3 separate regions of the Homo sapiens genome follow, and all the other regions are reported to be linked to region 1. Evidence: microRNA targets listed by miRTarBase, many of them from high-throughput screens and not tested one by one. Region 1 holds a microRNA gene; each other region holds the end of a gene's coding sequence.
The links. Region 1 holds the annotated microRNA hsa-miR-186-5p (CAAAGAAUUCUCCUUUUGGGCU, at 2,377-2,398, opposite strand). A microRNA usually pairs through its seed, bases 2 to 8, with sites in the 3' UTR of a target mRNA and lowers its output. Matches are read on the target gene's strand: a 7mer-m8 pairs with bases 2 to 8, a 7mer-A1 pairs with bases 2 to 7 and ends in A, and an 8mer does both.

Region 1 (8,104 bases):
TTGGATATGAGCCCAGTTATCATATAAATACAATAAAAAATTCTCTACAATTTCAAAAGAATCTCATTTCAAAATATAGCCACCTCTCAATTATTTAAGATATCAAAGAAAAGCCTTGCAAAAATGTGTAAAATTACAGAAAATGTACAACAAAAGCATATAAACTTGGTAATGGAAGTGTGACTAAACCAATCCCTGTGACACGGTGTAGAAAGTGTAAGAAGTCTATTATGTAAAAAAGATACAGCAAGGCTTCTGTGTATGAGAAAATATACTCATAAATAAGTTTTGGAAATCTAGGTCACACAAGATGATTGTACAATTTGCTATAGGGTTATATTCATGCAGCTAGTATGAATAAGTCAATATCAACCTGGGTAAAGTAGTGGTGTTCCGTAGGGGTTGGCCCTGGGCTCAGGGTTGTTTAGTGTTTTCACCAATCACCTGGCTTATGGAATAGAGAACATGTTCATTAAGTTTAGATGACAACAAACTAGGGGGATTATATGTGGCTAAGATAAAAATTTGCAGAAGTGGTAAGAAAGCAACAGAATGAATTCCACTCAAAAACAGAGTAATTTTTTTTACAAAGAAACAAATGCAGAGAAACAAGACTGTGTGAAATCTTAACATCTAAACTCCAAAATGTGAAGAAGCAAAACTAATCATTCTGTACAAGTAGGAATCATGAGATAATCCTACCACTGAACCCAGCAATTAATAGACTTTACATAATCTTTATTTTCACAAGCTAATAAAATATGAAAAATTTGCAAAGACTACAAATAAAGCCATTAAAATGACTATATAATTGGGAACAAAGAGAAAATTAATGAAACTGAGTAATTAGCCTGTTGCAGAAAAGGCTGACAGATGACAGTTGCATTCTTCCAATATTAAAAGTGTCAGTACAGATAAAGTAACCTAATATAGGCCTTTCTCAAAAAAGATTTGGACTGCAAAATGAAAAATGTATTAGCTACAAGGAATAATTTCCTTATAGACAAAGGGCATGAAGCAATTTGCTGTGGAAATGCATTTACACATATTTAAATGAGGACAGATTCCCAATGATCTGAAAGTTAATTTTTTATTAGATGCTCTAGAATTCTTGACTATTAGTATTTAAAGAAGCCTAAGTATAAAAGTCAACTCATAAATTACTTCGACATACAGCTTCTGAATTGCAATCTCAAAAGACAGAAATAACCGAGAGTTGGCTATAAAAATTATAAATGGAACTAAAAATTTAAACAATAAAATGATCAAAGAATGGTTTGATCTACAATTCTAAACAACCTGATCAAAGTACAAAGGATAAGCAAAGTAATGTTTTTTTGAAGTTCAAAGTTGAAAAGTAGAAAGTCGGAACACAAGAGATAATAAAAATCTAACCCTTGACTAGGAAAGTTTACTTTATCTATTAAACACACTTAAGAACACCCATTCTTATTTCTACAGAAACCCAAACCTTTCGGGTGACCGTGATCTTGTTCGTCTTTTTTTGCGATCACCAGATGAAGAAGATCTAGAACGACTTCTCTTTCTGTTCCTCTCAGGAGAAGATGATGAACTTGAATAAGATCTTTTTCGTGGGGAAGAAGAGCCCCTGTGGGACCTGGAGCTGGATCTTCATTGATTGAGAAACAAATCAAACATTTCATTAAAAGAAGAAATAAGGAAGATTATTTAGTTATCAGATAGCTCCAAAAATAAACAGGATTTATAACAACTATGAAAATTTTATAAGGAAGAATACTTACTGCTTATTCAACAGAAGACTTCTGGATCAACCATGAAAACATTCTACTTAAACATTTTAATTTTGTCTCTTTAAAATTCTATCATGTGTAATTAAAACCCTGCTTACTATATCAAAATAGAATTTAAACTTTTTTTAAGGCTTTTCAAAGTATACACAAATATTATAGTATTATAAAATCAGCAGATAACTGCATTAACAGGACTTTACGTTTAGGAACTACATCCTTCCATTTGAGGATTAAAATATGTATCTTATATACCACTTCCTGAGGAAAATAAACATAATTCCATGTGGAATTATTCAACTCATTAAACTGTTATGGAAAAACCAGGTATATGGCACAGCAACAAAAGACTAGTAACTGTACTTAACTGCTAAATATTCAAGAAGAAATAAAAACTAACTTTAAGATGATTTATATTTACAATACTATTTTTATGAAAACCCACTACTTATGAAATATGAAGTGTTGACATTCACATGCTTCAGGTAGAAGTAAATGTGCAAATGTTTAAATACAAATTTTTTTTCTTCACTTGTATATTTTGGTTGAAGGAATTTAGCTCAAACTTCCCAAAAAATTCACCTTTGGGCTTAAAATAAAACCAGAAAGCCCAAAAGGAGAATTCTTTGGAAAGTTACAAGCAATGAAAAAATGTTTGGGAAGAATATGATGGGTGTTCTGTAAACCTTAATTATAATGGTTCCCAAAGGGAATACCAGAACTTAAGGATTTTTACCTATAAAGCGCTTAAATATTGTTACTAAATAATGGTAACAATAAAAAATAATTTGCTCTCTACTTCTATTTTTTTTTTTTTTTTTGAGACAGGATCTTGCTCTGTTCCCCAGGCTGTGGTGCAGTAGCATAAGCATGGCTCACTGCACCCTTAATCTCCAGGGCTCCAGTGATCCTTCCACCTCAGCCTATAAGAACACACCACCATGCCTGGCTGGTTGTTTTAATTTTTATTTTTAGTAGACGAGGTCTCACTATATTGCCCAGGCTGGTCTTGAACTCCTGGGCTCAAGCAGCCCGCCCACCTTGGCCTCCCAAGGTATTGGGATTACAGGCGTGAGCCACTGAGCCTGGCCTTGTTATCTATTTCTTATTGGCTTATAATGCAAGTGTGCACAACATTCTTTTCTCCTTAACATGATTATACTGTGGCAGCCCTTTAATGCTAAATTTGATTCAAAGCAGCAAATACTTTTACCAAAACAGCCACAGTTAGACTTCAATATGAATTTCCACAAATATGGAATTTCATTTTCTTATTTATTTTTTAGATGCCTTTAGGTCATAATAAATTAACTTAAAAACAAAGAGAGCATATTTTGACTAAACAAAGAAAAATTTCCTGCAAGAGCATCTTTCAAATTATGTTTCCCTCTACAGATGTGACTACATGCAACCTGAAACTTTAGAACACTGTTTACTACTTAAGACCACATCCTATCTCAACTAACCGACTATACTTCCTGATTTAGTTTTGAGTGTTTTGTGCTCTATAAATAATAGCGTGTGTAAAATTAGAAAGGAAAATGTATATACAGTACTCTAGTAACTTTATCTGATATAAATGGCAAATTTGTTTCTGAAAATATTGAAACAACTGCCGTGCAAAACAGGACCTGTTTTGAGGCAGGGTTATTTTTCTTCCTTTTAATAATGAAGAAAATTTTTCTTTTTATTTACATATGTAATTTTATTTGAACTACTATTAATTTTTTTTTTTTTTGAGACACTCCTCTGTCACCCAGGCTGGATTACAGTGCTGTGATCAAGGTTCACTACAACCTTGAACTCCTGGCCTCAAGTGATCCTCCCACCTCAGCTTCCCAAAGTGCTGGGATTATAGGCATGAATCACTGTGCCTGGCCATATATAATCTTAATATACTAGAGATGTGGCGATAAGACTTGGCTTCATCTTCCTACTTCATAACATCTTAGTGCCAAAATAATAAACGCTGCATATTGCAAAATAGCCACCTGATTTCAATCATGGGAATGTCTTGGCACACTGCTGGCAATGGAAACATTTCATGGTGAGAAAATTAAGCTGAGGCAAGTGCATTAGTTTTCTAATGCTAAAATAAAATCGACAAGTAGAAGCAAAATAAGGGGAAAAAAAGCAGCAACACCTTCTGCAGCCTTTAAATATTTTTCTCTCTGCTTTACAGAGAGATGCTACCTCATTCACCTTGATTTCGACCCACGAGATCTCGAACGTTCTCTGGAACTGGAACGAGATCTTGACTGCGAACTGGAAGAACTTCTTGAACGGGACCTGGAACAACATGGAACGATTTTTTTTTTCCAGGACCATTTAATTGAGCTTTGTGATATGAACACTGAAAGAAAGATATGTATTAGAGTTCATTTTCATATAAAAAGATAACTATACAAGATATATACTTTCAAAACATAGTATTTTAAATTAGATAAGATTTAGTAACAAAAGGTAATTAAAAAAATATCACTTTCCAGGTGATTAAATTACCCTAAAGCCACTCAACTATAAAACAAAACATTATCACTTTATTACAAAAACAATGAATACTTTGTTTACAAGTAACTAGAAGCTACCCAGAATACATCCAAGAAAACAGAATGTTGCGATTTATACTTAATTTCTCTAAAATGTCTCCATCATTTTCCTTTATAAATCCCCTTCTATTTTTGTTTCTAGTTAGTACAAAGTTTTGAATGTTGGCATGTGTGTATTTCATCCCTATATTTTTCTGTTTACTCAATGCTTAGAGAATTAAAGGGAAAATGTATAATTCTGTCATTGTTAGGTAATTATATTATTGGAAAATATGACACAAGGGAGACATGGTTCGTACAAATTTTAAAACTCACAAAATTCATTAATCTAATTTACAACTATAATTTGTCCCTTATAATAATACCCTGTAGAAAAAGATCACTATATTTTTACCAAAAAATTACTAGTTATAGCCCCACTTTGTTAAGCTTTCAGGCTTTGTAGTGCTCAATTAACATATATCTAATTGTTATACACTAATATCTAGTATTTTATTCCTAAATATGATTAAAATTCATTGCCCATGCCATCACTTAACTGTGATTAAGGTTTTTCAAGAGGACACTGTTAAATTTAAATCACTGCTTTCACTCACCTAAAATTTTATTTTTATTGTTAACTATAAAATCAGAGATTACATATTTTACATCAACAAACAATATTCAAGTACACCAAAAGAGTTTTAGTTTACGCCTGGACTTCTCAAAATTATGAGCATGAAGTCAACAGAACTAATATGGCTGAATTTGCTCCGTTATTCACAATACTGATATCAAAGCAAACTATTAAAAACATTATGTAATAAGCAATGATTTAATGCCTAGAAAATTTCTGTGCTAGCCTTTAACATCTTGAATGAAAATACAGATCTCCCCTTTACTTAATTTCTATATGTAAGCTATCTCTTTAGATTAATTAAATATAAGTGTATATAAAAATTTAATTCAGTTTTTAAGTCTATTTTAGTCAAAAGCATGAGGCTAAAATAGGTTAAGGAAGTTTCATGCTAAGACTTTACTTTTCTAAAAATACTGGACAACAACTGTATGGTACTAAGCTGAAAAATTATTTTAAAAGTTGATTTGAATTAAATTTTTAAAATAAAAAGGAAAGTTTATTTCGTCAAGAAAAACAAAATTTATAAATAAAAAAGTTAGATACTGACATTTTGACTGGTGTTACCCTTGACCTGTACCCGTTTACCTGGACCTAGACCTTGAACTTGAGGGGGAGGATGAGCGTGATGAAGATCGTGAATGTGAAGATCGAGACTTTGAGCGACTTCGTCTATTAGATTTCTTTTTATTACTATCTTCTTCTTCACTGGCATCAAGATTATATTTTGAGAGATCAGCGTCATCTTCATCCTCATCCTAACAAAAATTCAATTATAATTAGACATTTAGATATTAGTGTTACCTACCAGGAAAGATAAAACAGTTAGGTGTACTGAGCACCTCCATATGCATATATCACAGGTATCTCAGCAAATTAATTCTGAATTCTAAAATTCACCTACTAAACTCATCTCAAATAGAGACTTGACAACTTTGTCTCAGGTATTGCACAGACATAAACCTGGAGGCCATACACACTTTTTCTGTCACACTTATGCATCACCCAAGAATTTTCAAGTCCACCTCCTTAAAAGTCCTTGAAATCACCATTTTTAGTCTTAGACACTCTGTTCCTTATTCTCTAGCATATTATAGTAACCTCTTAGCTGGTCTCCTCAAATCTGAAGATCCATTCTGCCTCTCTAGTATCTCAATATACTGACAGTCATCACTCTGAAACACAGGACAGATAAACACATCTCACTTTTTTCTTAAAAACTTCAAAACTGGCTTATTATTTCTTTAGTTGCATTCCAAGACCTCTTATGATCAGGCTCTAAGGTACCCTTAACATGGCATAAAACTTACACTCTGGCCTGACAGAACAAGTATCACCAGACCTGAAATGTGTGCTGTCCCCCTCATCTCATTCTCCCCTCTGCTCTAACTATACTGGCCTATGTATGGTATTTTTGAAGGCTGCTGGCTTATCTCCTATTTAGGGAACCCGTATTTGCTGTTCTCTGCCTAAATGTGCTCTCACCTCGGCTCTTATTGCTGGCTCCTTCCTATCATTCAAGTTTCAGCTCAAACTTCACCTCCTTAGACATTATCCATCGGCAAAACCAAAGTTGCTTTTAAACTGTTATCACATCATGTGTCTTCATAACGTTACTGCTATCAAAATTACCTATTTATATATTTCCTCCTCTAGAACTGTGTAAGAGAAAACTGGTTCTGTTTCGGTCACCACTGTATCTCCAGAACAGTAGTGTTCCAAGTACAAATAGTACTTGGCAGAGTGGAAATCCAAAACCTTTGTGAGAACAAATGAAAACACAGAATATATTTTCACCAAGTGTCTGAGGCTGTCAAAAGCATTCATGTTATGGTATAACTCCAATAAGACAAAAGGGAAATAGGACAAGAAAATTGTTCACCTCATCTAACTTATATTTAGAAAGATCTTCATCCTCATCCTCTTCTTCTCCCTCTGATTCTTTATCTTCAACTTCCTTTAATATAGATGCAGGACCAACTGCTTTCCCTCTGTATTTTTTCTTTTTACGTCCAAACTAGAGAAAAACAATTTCAAAATGCTTGTCAGCTGATAATGCATTAAACTTAATACATTTTCTAAAAAATTATTTTAGATATTTATGATTTCCTGAAAATGATCAGTTGCTGAAGACTCAAATTGCACTTAAAAAAAAGTTTGTTTTCCTTTGCATTTAAGAATTTTTTCTGTTTTTCTAATTTATATTCAACCTGAACACCAAAATATAGCTTACCTCATCATATTCACCATCAGATTCTTCTCTTTCTATATATTCAACATTTTCTCTTTCATTAAAACCACCACCATATCCTTAAAAAAGAGGGCACAAATTGTTACCCTATGACAATTGATTTAAATAATAAACACATCATGCCCAAATCTCCAGACAACAAAAAACATCTAATCAACAATGGCTGCCTACCCATCTAATAAATTACTAGTCTTTAGAAAGCATATTAGAAATCACCACAGAAAATACAGAGAACTTAGTTGTAACGTCATATGGCTGTACTTCTAGCTCTTTTCAATTCCAAATTGCCCTACATGACTTATTTAATTCATAGAAAGTATTGGTGGAAAACATCTCAAACTTCTGCTATAACCAAGTTTTAAAGGACTTTCCTCTACAGTTAATCGTAATTCTTCTGGGAAGGGTGGGCTCAGTAACAACCAAGCATTAAATTCCACTGTTTACCAACTGCAAATAGTCTGAAATCTTCTGATATTCTGAAATTTTGCTACTTTAAAATGTAGCAGGCCTTATTAGAGCTTGGAAAATTCCTAATTACACAGACAAACACAATAACACAATAAAGGCCATCCTTTGGCCCTGGTTTAATTGGTTTTAACACATAGGTAAAAGTCACACAGGTTCTCTGAAGTAGCCAGTAAATTTTGAAATTAAATGATTCTATTAAAAAGTAGTTGAGATTAGCAAACCACTATTCTCTCATGTCACAACCAATGTATACAATTCAATTGGCAGGTCTCTGACATAAGCTTAAAGGAGAGACTGGAATTAAAGAAAATGAGCTAGTTTTAGGAAAAGTGAGTTGACATATTTTGAAAAAGTCTCCCATTGAAAATTAAAGAGGTATGTGTTGATCAAGAGTAATACAATCTAACTGGTCACATACTCCAGAGCAGTATCAGTACAATAAGGCCGGTGA
Region 2 (7,552 bases), not on the chromosome of region 1:
CGACTCCTCCAGTCTGCCCGACGACATCTCAGTGGTCAAGGTGGAGGACAGCTTCGAGGGCGAGCGGCCGGGTCGCCGCTCCAAGAAGATCTGGCTGGTGCCCATCGACTTCGACAAGTTAGAGATCCCCCAGCCTGACTTCGAGGTGCCCGGTGCCGACTGCCTGCTCAGCAAGGAGCAGCTACGCAGCATCTACGAGAGCAGCCTGTCCATCGGCAACTTCGCCTCGCGCCTGCTGGTGCACCTGTTCCCCGAGCTCTTCACGCACGAGAACCTGCGCAAGCAGTACAACTGCAGCGGCTCCCTGGGCAAGAAGCAGCTGGACCCCTCCCGCATCAAGCTCATCCGCCACTACGTGCAGCTGCTCTACCCACGCGCCAAAAACGACCGCGTCTGGACCCTGGAGTTCGTGGGCAAACTGGATGAGCGCTGCCGGCGCCGGGACACGGAGCAAAGGCGCTCCTACCAGCAGCAGCGCAAGGTCCACGTGCCGGGCCCTGAGTGCAGAGACTTGACCAGCTATGCAATCAACCCCGAGAGGTTCCGGGAGGAGTTTGAGGGGCCCCCACTGCCCCCCGAGAGGAGCAGCAAGGACTTTTGCAAGATCCCCTTGGACGAGCTGGTGGTCCCCTCGCCTGACTTCCCGGTGCCTTCTCCCTACCTGCTGTCTGACAAGGAGGTGCGTGAGATCGTGCAGCAGAGCCTCTCCGTGGGCAACTTTGCCGCCCGGCTCCTCGTCCGCCTGTTTCCCGAACTCTTCACCGCCGAGAACCTCCGGCTGCAGTACAACCATTCCGGGGCTTGCAACAAGAAGCAACTGGACCCCACGCGGCTGCGGCTCATCCGCCACTACGTGGAAGCCGTCTACCCGGTGGAGAAGATGGAGGAGGTGTGGCACTACGAATGTATCCCCAGCATCGATGAGAGGTGCCGCCGCCCCAACAGGAAAAAATGCGACATCCTCAAGAAAGCAAAGAAAGTGGAGAAGTGAAGGCCCGTGACCTGCCCAGAGATTCGGGGTCACCAGAGGCTGAGCGATGGGCACCCTTGGGACTGAGCAATACTTGGGAGCACGCCTATGGCATCCACAGACAGGCACCTTATGTCCGTGGGGAGTGGCTTACTACATTTGCACACGTAAACACCCACCCAACCGCAAGAAAGAAGCCTTGAGTTTGGTCTCTTGTACTTACAACTTCTGTCCTATGTGCCCCGGCGGGGCAGCCTGAGTGTGGGGAGAGCAAGCTGTGAGGGCAGGGACCAGAGGTTAGGGGTCCTCTCTCCCTGGTTGTGCCCTCCCCAGCCCCTCACAGCTTATAATGCAAACCCAGCAACTCTCTTGCCCCTCTTCCCATATTTTACATCTTCCATTTTGACCCATTTTTTTTTAATTAAAAAGAAACCCTTAAAAAAAATCATTGGGCTCTTTGGGGGCCATTTTACTTAGAAAAAAATCTCTTTAAAAGTGCCATGTTCGTGCACAGTGGCTAATCATAGCTTCAGGTGGCATGGATACTGATTTTACTGACCTTGTTTTTTACATCTGATTTTGGAAGAGTCAAGATGCCCCTTGGATGGCAGTAGAGGGGATGGAATAGTGCGAAGTCCTTTACGACCACATGCAAGTTTTCCCTTCTGCTCTGGTGCCAGGGAAGGCTTCCGTTCAGCTTGGCCTGTCCTTCAGGCGCGTTGGTAGAATGTTGTGTCACTCTTTAGGCGAGAACACTGGATGATGATGATATGAATGTAGACAGCCGTGGAAACACGTTCGCAGTGTCTCCATCTGAGCCGTGTCCTTCCGCTGCCCCCATTCCTTCTCCATACATGGTTGCTGGTTGGAGGGAGTGGACATGTTTCCTTGGAAAACAGTGCAGGGGCTTTTGGCTTCTTGTTAGATTTAAGGGTGGGCCTCTTTGAGCTCACCATGAACTGTTTACTTTTCCGTGTGTGTATTTGTACAAAATCCAGGTTCCGGGAGCTTTGTGGTGACTTCCCCAGACCTCAGTGTTAGCTACTCCAGGCAGTACTACATCCTCATTCCTCAGGGCGGGCCCAGGTCTGGGCCCCTCTTGGGGATACCATGCATTGGAAGGACACAGGCCATTTTAGATGGGGTACACATGTCCCTTCCCAGGGTCCACTCAGAACTTTCCTCTTGGACTCTCTAGAAGGTCCTGCTGTCCTATACCTGGCCACCCCCTGCCTTGGGGGGCACATGTCTTCGTTCCCTCCCGACTGGGAATGTCAGGCTCCTGCAGGCCAGCTGCATGCTCTCCAGGAGCACCAACTGGGAAATCCCCTGACAGGTAAAGTCCTTTAAAATGATACTTTTACCTACCTAACTCTGGGGGCCAAATGCTTAAGAGGGAAAGGAAACAGTCGAATGCAAACAGTGTGTCATACCAGAGTCCTGGAAAATTTATTGAATCACACAGGGTAGTCATAGAACCCCTGTGGGATGGCTTAATATTTTGCTACTTTAAAATGCAGAGATAACAGAAACAATCTGGATTTTCTTCATTCAGCTGATAAGAACTTCAGTTCCAGTGGCTGTATGACATAATTTTGCCTGTACCCAGGAGCATTTTTTAAAATACAGGATTTTAAAAGCAATGTTAAGTTGCTGATCTAACTAGTAAATTTGCTCCTAAGTGTCATTTACAGATTATTTCTGTTGAAACTGCAAACAGATTTAGAAAGGCACAGGGACTGAATGACTCTCTGTCTTACACAGCTACTCATGCACACACGCACTGCTTACTAAAAGCTGAAGTGAGATGAAGGGGGCCTACACGAATAACAAGTTCAACTTCTTTGTGCCTGGAAAGGAGGGACTGGAGCAGCCAGGAGACTCACTTTCCCCCCTCGCTTGGGCCCTTCTCTATGCCTTAGTCTCTCCAGCACATGCACACAGCATGCACACACACGCACCCTACCCAAAGACAGCTGTGGCCCTCTCCCACCACCTCCCCCTTCCCACCGCTGGTTGTTGGGGGCTGGAGGCGGGAGGTCCCATGGAATTTGTTCTGGTTTCTAGGATGTAAACGAGGACTCCAAGCCATGAATTGCCCTGCTTTCTAGAGGGTGGAATGTTGACCCTGCAACTTTAGAAGCACAATCATTTATTAATAATTTTTTTGAAACTCCCATCTACCCCTGTTAGAGAAATCAACAGGTTCTAGGAATTAAATATGTCTCTTTGTAACCCAGAGCATGTTCAATTTTTGGAAACCGTATTTCAGTGATTTTCTTAATACCTTACATGTGTAGGGCATCTTCCCCCAGAATCTTACAGTCCCTTTCTGTGAAGAGAAGTGGACACACGTGGGAACTCTCACCATCTCTGGACTGTCGTCAGGAAACGCCTGCAGGTCCTTGCCCTGTCTGTATGGTGTCCTCACTTCTCCATCCATACAGGTGGCTCCAGTGGGCATTTTTTTATTTTAAATTTTTTACATGAAGCAATAGAAGTACAAAATACTTATTTTTTCAAAATTTAATGTGTTCCATGAAACCTGTTGGCAGTCGCTTTCCTTCCCCCACATCTAAATTCTTTGGTTTTTAGTTGTTTGTTTTTTGGATTTTTTTTTTTTTTTTTTTGGCCTTGTATCCCAAGGACTAAAAGATTAGCACAGACACGTTTTGATGTTGAATGAACTAGTAAGTCACAGTAGGTGGTAGTCTTCATTGATTTCTCTGTAAGTTTTTAAAGAATGTATGAAGATAGTCACGAATGTACTGAGTGTTCGCATCCCCCTTCAGTTCACCTTGGCTGTGTCTACAGGACAACAAATGTTTGACAGGGAATAAAGTCGTGTCTGGTGTCATTTGCGCTAGCGTGCCCCTCCCCTTTCGGTGTTGGCTCCAAACCTTCCTTTCCTTTTATGTTTGTGGGGAGTGGGGAACCACATCAGCAGCAATCATCAACCAACCAACCAATGGGATCTACTTAGTGGTGAATAGATTGGCTATTTAATTGGTAAAAGTTGCTGGTCTGACCACACCACAGCATGACCACTGGGTTCATTTAGAGATGGCCTCCGTTTCCAACGTTCCCCACAAATGTTTGCTTCTTTCCCAGTCAAGAGGGGATCTCGAGACTCCCGAGTGGAGGTCGTGAGCTTGCACCCCGCCTGGCTGTGTAGATCGACTGTATAGATACATGAAGTGGGGGTGAGGGCCAAGGGGCTATTACTGCTGTTGGGAAATACTTGCCTCTCGTAGATCCAGCCTTAATGTTTTTCTGACATCCTAGTAATAGCAGACCCTGCACAAAGTGGATATCAGACTTAATACTGTGAGGAGACAAAATAATGAGAATAGTTTTACCAAAGATAATGAAATCTCGCATCATGTCTGCATTTTACCATAGATTGGAGTGCATCCTTAGGAAACTGAATGTAACAAAAACCCAGGACATTTTTGGAAATTGTATGCTCTCTAGCAACTTTGTGTGAATTTTTATACAAACACTGTTTTATGAGTTATATAAAATGTTATAAAAATAGAAAAACATGGTCTCGTAACATGTTATTTTCTTAGAGCACTGGTCTCTCAGAATATGTCTTGGTCTATTTGTCTTTGTGCGTGGCCTCCTCACCCACCTCCCAGGGAAGAACGTGAATATTCCGGGGGATTTCAGCTTCTGGGGCTTCCATACTCTACGTGTCAGGGGTACAGCTCATAGGATTTCAGTTTGGCCACAGCTGAATGAATGAGAAATTGCCAGATAAATCCTCCAAACCATTTCTCCACAAACCACTTCCTGGCCATGTAGTGGGAGGCTTGTTTGACCTTTTTTAACCTTTCCTGGTCAGGTGCCAGGCCAGTCCTGCAAAGCCAGCAGAGTTTCATTTTCATTTAACCGCCTTTTTTTTTTTCACTTTGGATCAAATGGGTTTTAGTTTCCCGCCGCCCCAACCCTGCTAGAGTGCAGTGGTATAATCATGGCTCACTGCAGCCTCGACTTCCTGGGCTCAAGTGATCTTCCTGCCACAGACTCCTAAGTAGCTGGGACTACAGGCCCACACTACCATGCCTGGCTAGTTTTATTATTGTAGAGATGTGACCTCACCATGTTACCCAGGCTGGTTTCAAACCACTGGCCTCAAGTAATCCTCCCACCTCAACCCCCAAAAGTATTGGGATTACTGGTGTGAGCCACTGTGCCCGGCCTCATGTATTATTATTTGTAAAAAGGGATGTTTTCCCTCACCTTCTCTTCTCTTTGGCTAATTATAAATCATTAAACTTAATATTTTATAGTAATAATTAGGCCAGGTGCGTTGGCTAACACCTGTAATCCTAACACTTTGGGAGGCCAAGGTGGGTGGATCACCTGAAGTCAGGAGTTTGAGACCAGCCTGGCCAACATGGTGAAACCCCATCTCTACTAAAAATATAAAAATTAGCCAGGCATGGTGGTGCATGCCTGTAATCTCAGCTACTCGGGAGGCTGAGGTGGGAGAATCGCTTGGACGTGGGAGGCAAAGTTGCAGTGAGCCGAGATCATGCCACTGTACTCCAGCCTGGGCAACAGAAACTCTGTCTCAAGGAAAAAAATATATATATTTATATATTTTTAAATATATATAATATTATACATTAGATGTAATATATTTATATATATATAACATATAGAGTAAAAATTCTATCTCAAGATGTCAGAGAAACTTCCTTGGCCCAGGGATCAGAAGATATAAAGTAGTTGGTGGCTCGTGATTGAAACACTTACTACAGTGAGTATTTGCTTATTTGATAGCCTTGAAATCTATACAGCCAGCACATCTGTGCTGTAAACCTTCTCAGCAGGTGTGCCTTGGTTGGGTGCTGGACCTGAACCTCCAAATGCTAAATCCACTAGCCAGTTTAAGCAAGAAGTGAGGAAAAGCTAAATTCTTTGAGACTCTTGTGGCTGTGGGTATCTTTGTCTTCTTCCAAAAAGAACATTCACAGAGTATTTCAGTGAGAGTATACTTGTAAGATCTAGTTCTCAGAAATAATAACTCGACACCAGATTATCATGATCATTGGAATGGTGAAATGCAGTGGACTCTAAGGAGCTTTCAGATAAGTCTGGAATATCTGGGCCGGCGTGGTGGCTCACACCTGTAATCTCAGCACTTTGGGAGGCCGAGGCGGGAGGATCACTTGAGGTCAGGAGTTCGATGCCATCCTGGCCAGCATGGTAAAACCCCGTCTCTACTGAAAATACCAAAATTGGCTGGGTGTGGTTGTGAGCACCTGTGGTCCCAGCTACTTAGGAGGCTGAGGCAGGAGAACTGCTTGCACCTGGGAGGTGGATGTTGCAGTGAGCCGAGATCACACCACTGCACTCCAGCCTGGGCGACAGAGTGAGACTCCATCTCAAAAAAAGAAAAAAAAAATTTGGAATATCTGGCCAGTGGTGGAGAAAGGAAAGAACAAGCATTGCTTCTGACTGGGATGGCACCAACATTCCTTGAGTATATTGTATGTGCCAGACACTGCTAAGAATGGAACCTGGGCAACGTGTTATCCTTTCAAAAGCCTTGTGAGGTAAGTACCATAATTATGCCTTGTTAACAGGTAAGAAAGCTAGGGACGCAAATGGTGTCTACATTATCTCATTTGCTTCTCATAAAAACTCATTGCTGTGGTCACTGTTATTAACTCAGTTTTGTGGTAAGGAGAGAAGTTGGTTTCTTGCTCAAGTTCACACAACTGGAAATTGGCGGTGCCAGGATTTGAGCCCAAGTTGGCCTCTGATTTCCATCATACCCAAGCCACAATACACAAGACTCAGATCCTAAAACAATTGCAAGTCAGCAGTGGTGTCTATCACTCCCATCCTCTAAGCCCCAGTGTGTCTGATCTTAGATATAGGAGTGCTTGTTTTAGAATTAAGCTTCAATGACAGAGCCTTGGGAGCTAATGAATGTAAATAATAGAATTAGGGTGGGCGCGGTGGCTCACTCTTGTAATCCCAGCACTTTAGGGGGCCAAAGTGGGTGGATCACCTGAGGTCAGGAGTTGAGACCAGCTTGGCCAACATGGTAAAACCCCACCTCTACTAAAAATACAAAAATTAGCTGGGCATGGTGGCGCATGCCCGTAATCCCAGCTACTCGGGAAGCTGAGGCAGGAGAATCGTTCGAACCCGGGAGGCAGAGGTTGCAGTGAGCCGAAATGGCGCCACTGCACTCCAGCCTGGGCGACAGAGTGAGATCTTTTCTCAAAAAATGAAACAAACACAAAAAACTTATCTGGGCATGGTGGCGTGCACCTGTAATCCCAGCAACTGAGGAGGCTGAGTCAGGAGAATTGCTTGAACCCAGGAGACAGAAGTTGCAGTGAACTGAGATCAAGCCACTGCACTCCAGCCTGGGTGACAGAGTGAGACTGTCTCTAAATAAATAAAATAAAATAATAGAATCAAGCTAATTCTAAATAATTATAGCAATTGTGAACTTTTTTTTTTTTTAAGAATGTGAAAGTAACTGCCGTAGATCAGGTTCCCTAGGAGCAGAGGCAGAGACTGAGATTCTTAGGCCATTAATTGAGGGCGTGCTGT
Region 3 (7,552 bases), not on the chromosome of region 1:
ACGGCCCAGGGCCCCGAAGATCAATAACTGCATGGACTCACTGGAGGCCATCGATCAAGAGTTGTCAAACGTAAATGCCCAGGCTGACAGGGCCTTCCTTCAGCTTGAGCGCAAGTTTGGCCGCATGCGAAGGCTCCACATGCAGCGCAGAAGTTTCATTATCCAGAATATCCCAGGTTTCTGGGTTACTGCCTTTCGAAACCACCCCCAGCTGTCACCTATGATCAGTGGCCAAGATGAAGACATGCTGAGGTACATGATCAATTTGGAGGTGGAGGAGCTTAAACACCCCAGAGCAGGCTGCAAATTCAAGTTCATCTTTCAGGGCAACCCCTACTTCCGAAATGAGGGGCTTGTCAAGGAATATGAACGCAGATCCTCTGGCCGGGTGGTGTCTCTTTCCACTCCAATCCGCTGGCACCGAGGCCAAGACCCCCAGGCTCATATCCACAGAAACCGGGAAGGGAACACTATCCCTAGTTTCTTCAACTGGTTTTCAGACCACAGCCTTCTAGAATTCGACAGAATTGCAGAGATTATCAAAGGAGAACTGTGGCCCAATCCCCTACAATACTACCTGATGGGTGAAGGGCCCCGTAGAGGAATTCGAGGCCCACCAAGGCAGCCAGTGGAGAGCGCCAGATCCTTCAGGTTCCAGTCTGGCTAATCTCTGTCCTGTGAGAAGCTTCTGCACAAGTTTCCTTACCACCTCCTCTTGGACCTATGCTTGGCCAACAGCATGCAGTCTTCCATCTGCTTTCTCTTCATACTGTGGATTATCTTTTCCTTTGGTTCTAAATCTTCAGTAATCGGTTGCAAGATTGTTGGCTTACCTGCCTGTGCCATTCTTCCTCTGGGCCTTCATGCTTTTCTGCATTGTGTTAACATGTTTCAAGTGCATGGCCTTCTACGGCTTCTATGCCAAGCGTATGATACTATAGATATAGTGTACCATACTGCCTTTCTTTGCATGGCTTGGACCCTATCTGTGACCATGCTCTTCTCCCAATTTAAGTGGTTCTGTACCACAAAGAATCTTGATACATTTTCACAAATAACTGATTGGGCTTCATACTTTATGCTGGCTGTGTCCTGATACCCATGTACTTATGGTAAGCTATTTGGGTATTACCACTGCAAGACAAAACTGATATCTTAACCCGGCCATCAACCCAAATTGGACATTCCAGACTACCACCAACTGGATCCCAGCTGCCTTCCTGGGCTTGTGCCATCCACCCTACTGGTTATCTGATAGAACAAGCTGGTGGCTGATGGGTGACTGCTAGGCGTGACTGAGGTAATAGATGAAAAGTGTTCTATGTTATCACATTGGTTTTCCTGTACCTTTGGTTACTCTACGTCATGACCAGCTGCTGGTGAGTATGAAGCCTGTGCTATAGCCCACCCCTACTCACTCTCACCTTCTGGTTGAACTTTGCTTAGGCCACCATTGTCTGCCTCATCAGGAACTATCTGTAGACGTAGCTCCCAGGGAGCTCACAGCAACACCCCCTACCACCAGGATGGGCAGTAATATGTGACAGAGCCCAAAGCAAGGCTGGAACGCAGTCCCTTCCAGCTTAGTCTTTCTGACTCCTAGCCAACAAACCATCCTTAATGTGAGCAACTTCTTTAGGCATTTCCTCTTTTCCCCGCCTGCACCCACTCTGAACATGACAAAAGTTGCCAGAGTTGGGGCATTGAGGAAGAGATATTTCTGGAATGTGAGACTTGTTATGCCTCTGTCTCTTTCTCTCCCTCCTCCTCCCCTCTCCCTCCCCCTCTCCCTCCCATCCCTTTTCTTCCCTTTCACTCTGAAGCAGTTTTAGCTTATTAACAGAAAACAAAACTGGCAAAGCAGGCTTTTTGTTTAATTTGCTCTTTCCCTGATTGTGTTCAGAGAGAAAGGTTATGATTAAATGGGCTCCAGATCTCTTATTGCCCTTATTCCTCCACCCCACTTCTTTTAGCAAGGTCTGAAAGTTTCAAAGGGAGACCTATAGGTTAATTGTTTAGTTATAGGCAGTGTTAAATTAGGCAGATTTTGACATATTTATCTTTTTACCCCATCCATTCTACCAAAACCTGTGTATTTCTTGAGTTTTTAGTTTGAGAAGCTGGAAAGAGAGAGAAGGGCCTCACAGTGATGGGTTCAGGACGGGTCAAAGGCAAAGGCCTTTGTGATGTGAGCAAAGGCAACCAAAACTTAGCCTCACTCCACTTTTCTAAAGATGGAAATTCTTTTTTGGGCCTTGGACTGCTTCTAGGGTAGCATTTTGTAGGTCACTCTTCTCCTTTGTACTATTTTGTTTCTGCCCTGATGTCCCTTGGGTCTCCATCCTACTGCCTGGCTTTCTTGGCCCTCATTTCTCAGCTTCTGCATTTCCTTCCCTGCTCCTAACAAATGAAGAAGCAGGCTGCAGCCTGCATTGTGGAAGATCTCCAGCCTCCTTGTAGGGGATAAGGGGATGTGCAGCATCTGTGTGGATTTTCACGGACAAGTTCCAGTAGGTGGGACAGTGATGCCGTCAAGGCTTAGTTATGATCATGTGTGGTGATAAAGACCATCCACCATCACCCTTTTCCCCTTTGGTTTTGAAGGCCTTGCCCTAAGCTACCTGAGGGTTTAGGAGGTCTGAACACACACAGTGGAGAGGTTAATCTAGGTTGGGAAACTGAGTAAAAGTCCAGAGCAGGAATGAGCCTGCTGTGGCGTGGGTTTGGAAAGGCTCACAGGAAAGAACCTGCAGGATCAGGGGTGGGAGGGGAGGCCCCTGAGGTGCTCTCCAGGGAAGAGGGGCTGGGGTTTAAATAGCATGCTTGGAGGAAGATTTTCCTTCAATTTTTCCTAAGTCCTTGAATTCACCAGTAGATTTTTGTAAACAAAATGTAAGTCGATGTTTTCTCTCAATTATCCTAGGAGTGACCTTTATATGTGTGGAAGATTAATGGTATATGCTCCTTATGTCACTGTTTTTGAGTAAAATCCATTTCCTTTCTCTGTTTCAGCCTATGACAAAATTGATGTTTACAGGCCTGCTTTTTGCTTATAATTGACAACATGTGCAAAAATACCAAATTTGTGTCCTGTGCAGTATGAAGAATTCAGTGAATATTCATTAATGTATTAGCTTGTTTTGCTCTCTGTTCATATATGGCTCTATTCTTAGAAATATAATTTGAATGTGATCTTTCAATAGTCTGAATATTTTACAAATTATAGCTATGTCTTGTGAAAATAACCTCAAAAAGAAAAATACGACTCTGTTGTCTTACTTGATATTTCTTGCCCTAGTAATGTACTTGACATTTATGTTCCTAAGCAGTGTAAGTACCAGTAGAATTTCTCTGTCAAACTCAATGATCATTTAGTACTTTTGTCTTCTCCCATGTGCTTGAAGGAAAAATAAAGTGTCACTACCGTATTTCTTGTTTTCATCAAAAAATAAAAATAATTTAAAAAATTCTGTGTTGTCTAGGTTAATTTAAGGTTGGGAAATCATTAAAGTTATCAAATGATACCAGTAACTATCATCCTGAAAGTTTAAAAAAAAAAAAAAGGCAACAGCCACCAAACCTTCCAAGATTTTTCACCTGAAAAATGGTAAATGGGAGCCCAACTGCAACTGCATACTCATGAGCATTATTTTTTCTACATAACCAGTGCAGTTTTTGGTGGTAATTGAAGCACCATATAGTATCACTTAAAATACTGTTTTCAGTGGAAAACTTGTCTATGCAGCATCCTTGTTCATTACATTTATTATTAACTGTGCCTTCCGAGATCTAATAAGCTTAAGATAGACTTTTGGAAGAATTAATTATTGTGTATTCTGTCAGTGCTACTTAACATTCTTTTCTTACACCAATGTGTGGCTTTAAAAAGAATACCAAGAAAATATGAAATAAAATGTCTAGAGACAAATGATATCAGGTATCACAACTTTAATTACCGGTAATGATAGTTTTGCTGTATAGCAGCAATTACATGAAAGTTTATTGGATAAATACCTCTGCATTCTCTGCAGTAAGGAGGGCTTTGTGGATGCTACAAAATCTATGAAAATGAATTGCTAAGTATTTGTAGCCATCTAAGCAAAAATTTGACAAAAATGGCCCAAAATTTCTCATTTGAGTTAGAAACTTAATTAAACATACAGTTAAAATAGATGCTGACTCTTGGTGCAATTATTACTTGCAATTTCTTGCTGAGGTATTTTTTTCTAGGGCTAGAGAACTTTAAGTATTAGAGAGCTAGGTTTTCTTTTGCAAGCTCTACATCCATCTTAATCCTAAATTCCTCTAACAATGTTCATTTTACCTTTTCAGTTCAGTGATTGATTTCTGCATTGTCAGCCACCTGTTTCAAGCTTTATTATACCTTTTCTATGCCTGTTCTGGATGTAATCAGAAAATGTCATTTTTCCTACACTTGGTTTATTATCTGCTTTAGTCTAACCAATAGCATTCACTGTAATAGGCTGGCGCCACTTATTTGTTACAGATTAGCATGGTTTCTGTTCTGTTTAGCCTAATAAAATTAGTCATTAAATTACTCAATTAGGCATCTTACAGGTTTCACTTACCAACCAATTGGTTCACTGCTATAGCCCTGCTCCATTTCTTTGTATTGCTTTTCCTTCCTTAATTCTAGACCCCAATTATTCTTTATGTGGACCTCCAAACCAGTTAAGAAGTTCTCCCATCCTCTGGTCACCTAAGAAGTATCATTTTAGTTTCTCAGGCCATAATCCCTGTGAGTAGTGGTGACACTGCATAATTACCCTGGTCCTCACACAACACTTTCCTTGCGCTTCCATTTCTGGGCATTCAGTGCAAGCCAGACACTTATAAAAGGCTTCTCTGACCTTCTCATCAGGCCCTTCTCCCCATTACTCCTCGTGCTGCTGCTTTATCTCCAGTTAACTCAACGTCCTTAAATGTTTTCATCATTAACAAACAAAAACCAAAACAAACCCTTGCCTATATTTTTAATTACTGAGTCCCTGTCCTAGAGAATCACAATTTAAGACATGGATATTTGATCTTGTTTCAGTTACTTATTCCCTGGCTTCACAATCTCCTCAAAAGATCTGAGATATGTCAGGCACTTCGAAGTGCACATATTACTTTGATAATCCTTGTAACACAAGTTTTATTATTTCCATTTAAATAGTTGAGAAAACAGAGGTCCAGAAAGTAGAACTGCCTAAGATGCAAGTCTCACTGTTGAGTTTTCTGATTTCAAGCTAGCATAACTTCTACTCTATCACAGCTATCGTAATAAATTTGGCATACAAATGTTAACAAAAACCCTACTGACACATGACTATTCAGGCCTCAGTTGAAGGTTATGCTTATTCATGAATAGCCTTTGAGAAGGGTACATTTTATCACTTGATTTAATACAGGACTCCATACAGTTACAGATTGACACATTTGAATTTACTTATGTAACCTTGATGTTTGCTGCACATGAATGAAATTATCAGTTTGTTCCCTTCATCAAAGGCACTGAATATTTAATGTACCAAAAAGACATTAAACGTTATACTCATGGAATTTAGCTGCTAAGCATTGTAAGTAACCGCTGACATTTCTGTTAAGAGAATATTTATTTTTTAAGTGATTAAACTTGGTGATTGCTTTTAACACATTTAGATAGTAATTTATTCCTTTTCTTTATTAAACTTTGTTAAGCTTTATTCAACTTTGATCTTTACCAAGGAAACAACATGACCAAAGTACCAAAAAAAGTAAAATAAACTTGTTTTTTGAAAAGAGTCTGTGAACAGGTACATGGTACAACAAACTGATTGGCAAGCAGTCTATGTACTTTTCCAGTTGTCATTCTAAGTAATGACCCAACTTCTCTATAGGCCCAGATATACTATTTCCCACTAAGCTTACTCAAAGATGAGTTTTCATCACTCCTTCCCCATTTTGGTTACTTCAGCACCAGTGAGGGAAATTTACCAAGCAGTCAAGGTGAACATTAACCCAGAATATGAAGAAAGAGTAGGCCTGCTTACTGATGACCTTGACATGTGTGGCTTCCAAGAGGAACAGACTCATTATATGCTTTAGGACTCCTGATTCTTGGATCTCTATTTTACTTTCCTAGGTAAGTTTTATATTACAGATATTTAATATATTTGGCTAAATTATGAATTACTTAAAGATAGAGGCTGTGTCTTCAATGTTAATCCCTCTCATGTCCTAGCACGACATTATTGCTAAATTGAAGTGTGGTTTTGGGCTGAGAATTTGCCCTAGTCTAGATTCAATATTGGAAGACATTATGTATCAAGTAATTAAAAGTGTGATTTTGAGGATCAAACTTGGGTTCATGTATTGCTCTCTTACTAACAGTGTAACACAGAGCAAGCATTGTATTTAATCTCTCTGAATTTCAATTTTCCCATCTGTACAATTTAATAATTATATACATCTCATATGGTTGCTATAGAGAGTAAACAAGATAATGTACATGAAGTAGCCTAGTGAGGCTACTCATGACCACTGTTTTACTATTATTTCTGAGGATAGTTCTAGAGACCAACAAGAGACACCTTTCTGAATTCATTCTATGTGGACTGGACCATGCCCAGGGATTTTCAAGGGTGGCAATAAGACCATACTGGGTGAATTACTTGGTATGCCCTCATGGCTTTAATAAAAGCAGTCAAGTGTATTCCAGTCTTGCACCAATCTGGAACTAACTCTTATGATAGTCTTCTTGTACTCAAGAGGCTGAAAAGATGTAAGGGACTGTTACTCCAACACTGAAGATTTTAAAAAGCTATCCATGTATTTCCAACAGTCAGTGAAGGTTATTATATCTAGAGAGGCAGTTTGATTTTCCATTTTATGCTGATTTGTTATATAAAATAATTATATAAATTTATTTTCATTCAAACCAGTTCACTAAAAGTGTGTGTGTGTGTGTGTGTGTGTGTATTTAAAGTTATTTTTGGATATGAATATTGGTGGGGAAATAATACTTGATTTCAGTTTAGAGTTTAACAAACTCAGAAGTTGATTTTAGATTGTAATTCATGGTTCAGATAAAGTTTTTACTACCTCAGTATTCCAAATACCAGATTCTGACAAAACATTTGGTCACTGAGTCATTCAGATCTTTCCTCTGCTGATGCGATAAACAGTGGCCAGCAAAGAAAACCTCCGCTCGCTTACATCTATTTTTAGGTGTCCTTTAGATTATGAATGTTTGCCTGTATGCGAATATTACATGTCTTCTGTCCATTTATACAATTTTTTTGCTTCATATAACTTCTTTAATATTTTCTTTTTAATTTTTATGGATTTGGATTATTTTTAATCTTCATATCCATTGGCACTCTTTACAAAGAATGAAAATACAAATTTAAAAAGCCTAATTATAGTCTTTCTAATTACAGAAAAAAAACATTCATTAGAAGAAATACTGACTGCTAGAAAGGAAGGAAATTTAGAAATAAACTAAACTTTTCCTTTCATAAGATGGAAAAAACTGAAGCCAAATTTGGTGGTAACTTGTTCAGGGTCT

Region 2: miRTarBase lists BEND3 as a target of hsa-miR-186-5p. Seed matches in the 3' UTR shown: 7mer-m8 at 3,550-3,556.
Region 3: miRTarBase lists TSPYL4 as a target of hsa-miR-186-5p. Seed matches in the 3' UTR shown: 7mer-A1 at 1,632-1,638 and 7mer-m8 at 2,241-2,247.

Annotation. Positions count from the first base shown.
Region 1 is chr1:71,065,305-71,073,408 of GRCh38, forward strand. It overlaps MIR186 (microRNA 186), which reads right to left and starts at 2,412; the gene lies at 2,327-2,412. It overlaps ZRANB2 (zinc finger RANBP2-type containing 2), which reads right to left. Exons shown (of 10, transcript NM_203350.3): 5 at 7,168-7,244; 6 at 6,817-6,951; 7 at 5,523-5,692; 8 at 3,972-4,058; 9 at 1,472-1,630. It overlaps ZRANB2-AS1 (ZRANB2 antisense RNA 1), which reads left to right. Exons shown (of 3, transcript NR_038420.1): 3 at 1,462-1,880. RefSeq lists a silencer at 3,199-3,248.
Region 2 is chr6:107,062,143-107,069,694 of GRCh38, reverse strand. BEND3 (BEN domain containing 3) reads left to right here. Exons shown (of 4, transcript NM_001367314.1): 4 at 1-4,513. The coding sequence ends at 991. Among named protein-coding and RNA genes, the nearest start is that of MTRES1, 38 kb to the right of the region's middle. RefSeq lists an enhancer at 7,443-7,552.
Region 3 is chr6:116,245,879-116,253,430 of GRCh38, reverse strand. TSPYL4 (TSPY like 4) reads left to right here. Exons shown (of 1, transcript NM_021648.5): 1 at 1-3,467. The coding sequence ends at 667. NT5DC1 (5'-nucleotidase domain containing 1) reads right to left here. Exons shown (of 12, transcript NM_152729.3): 12 at 3,934-7,552. Among named protein-coding and RNA genes, the nearest start is that of TSPYL4, 4.4 kb to the left of the region's middle.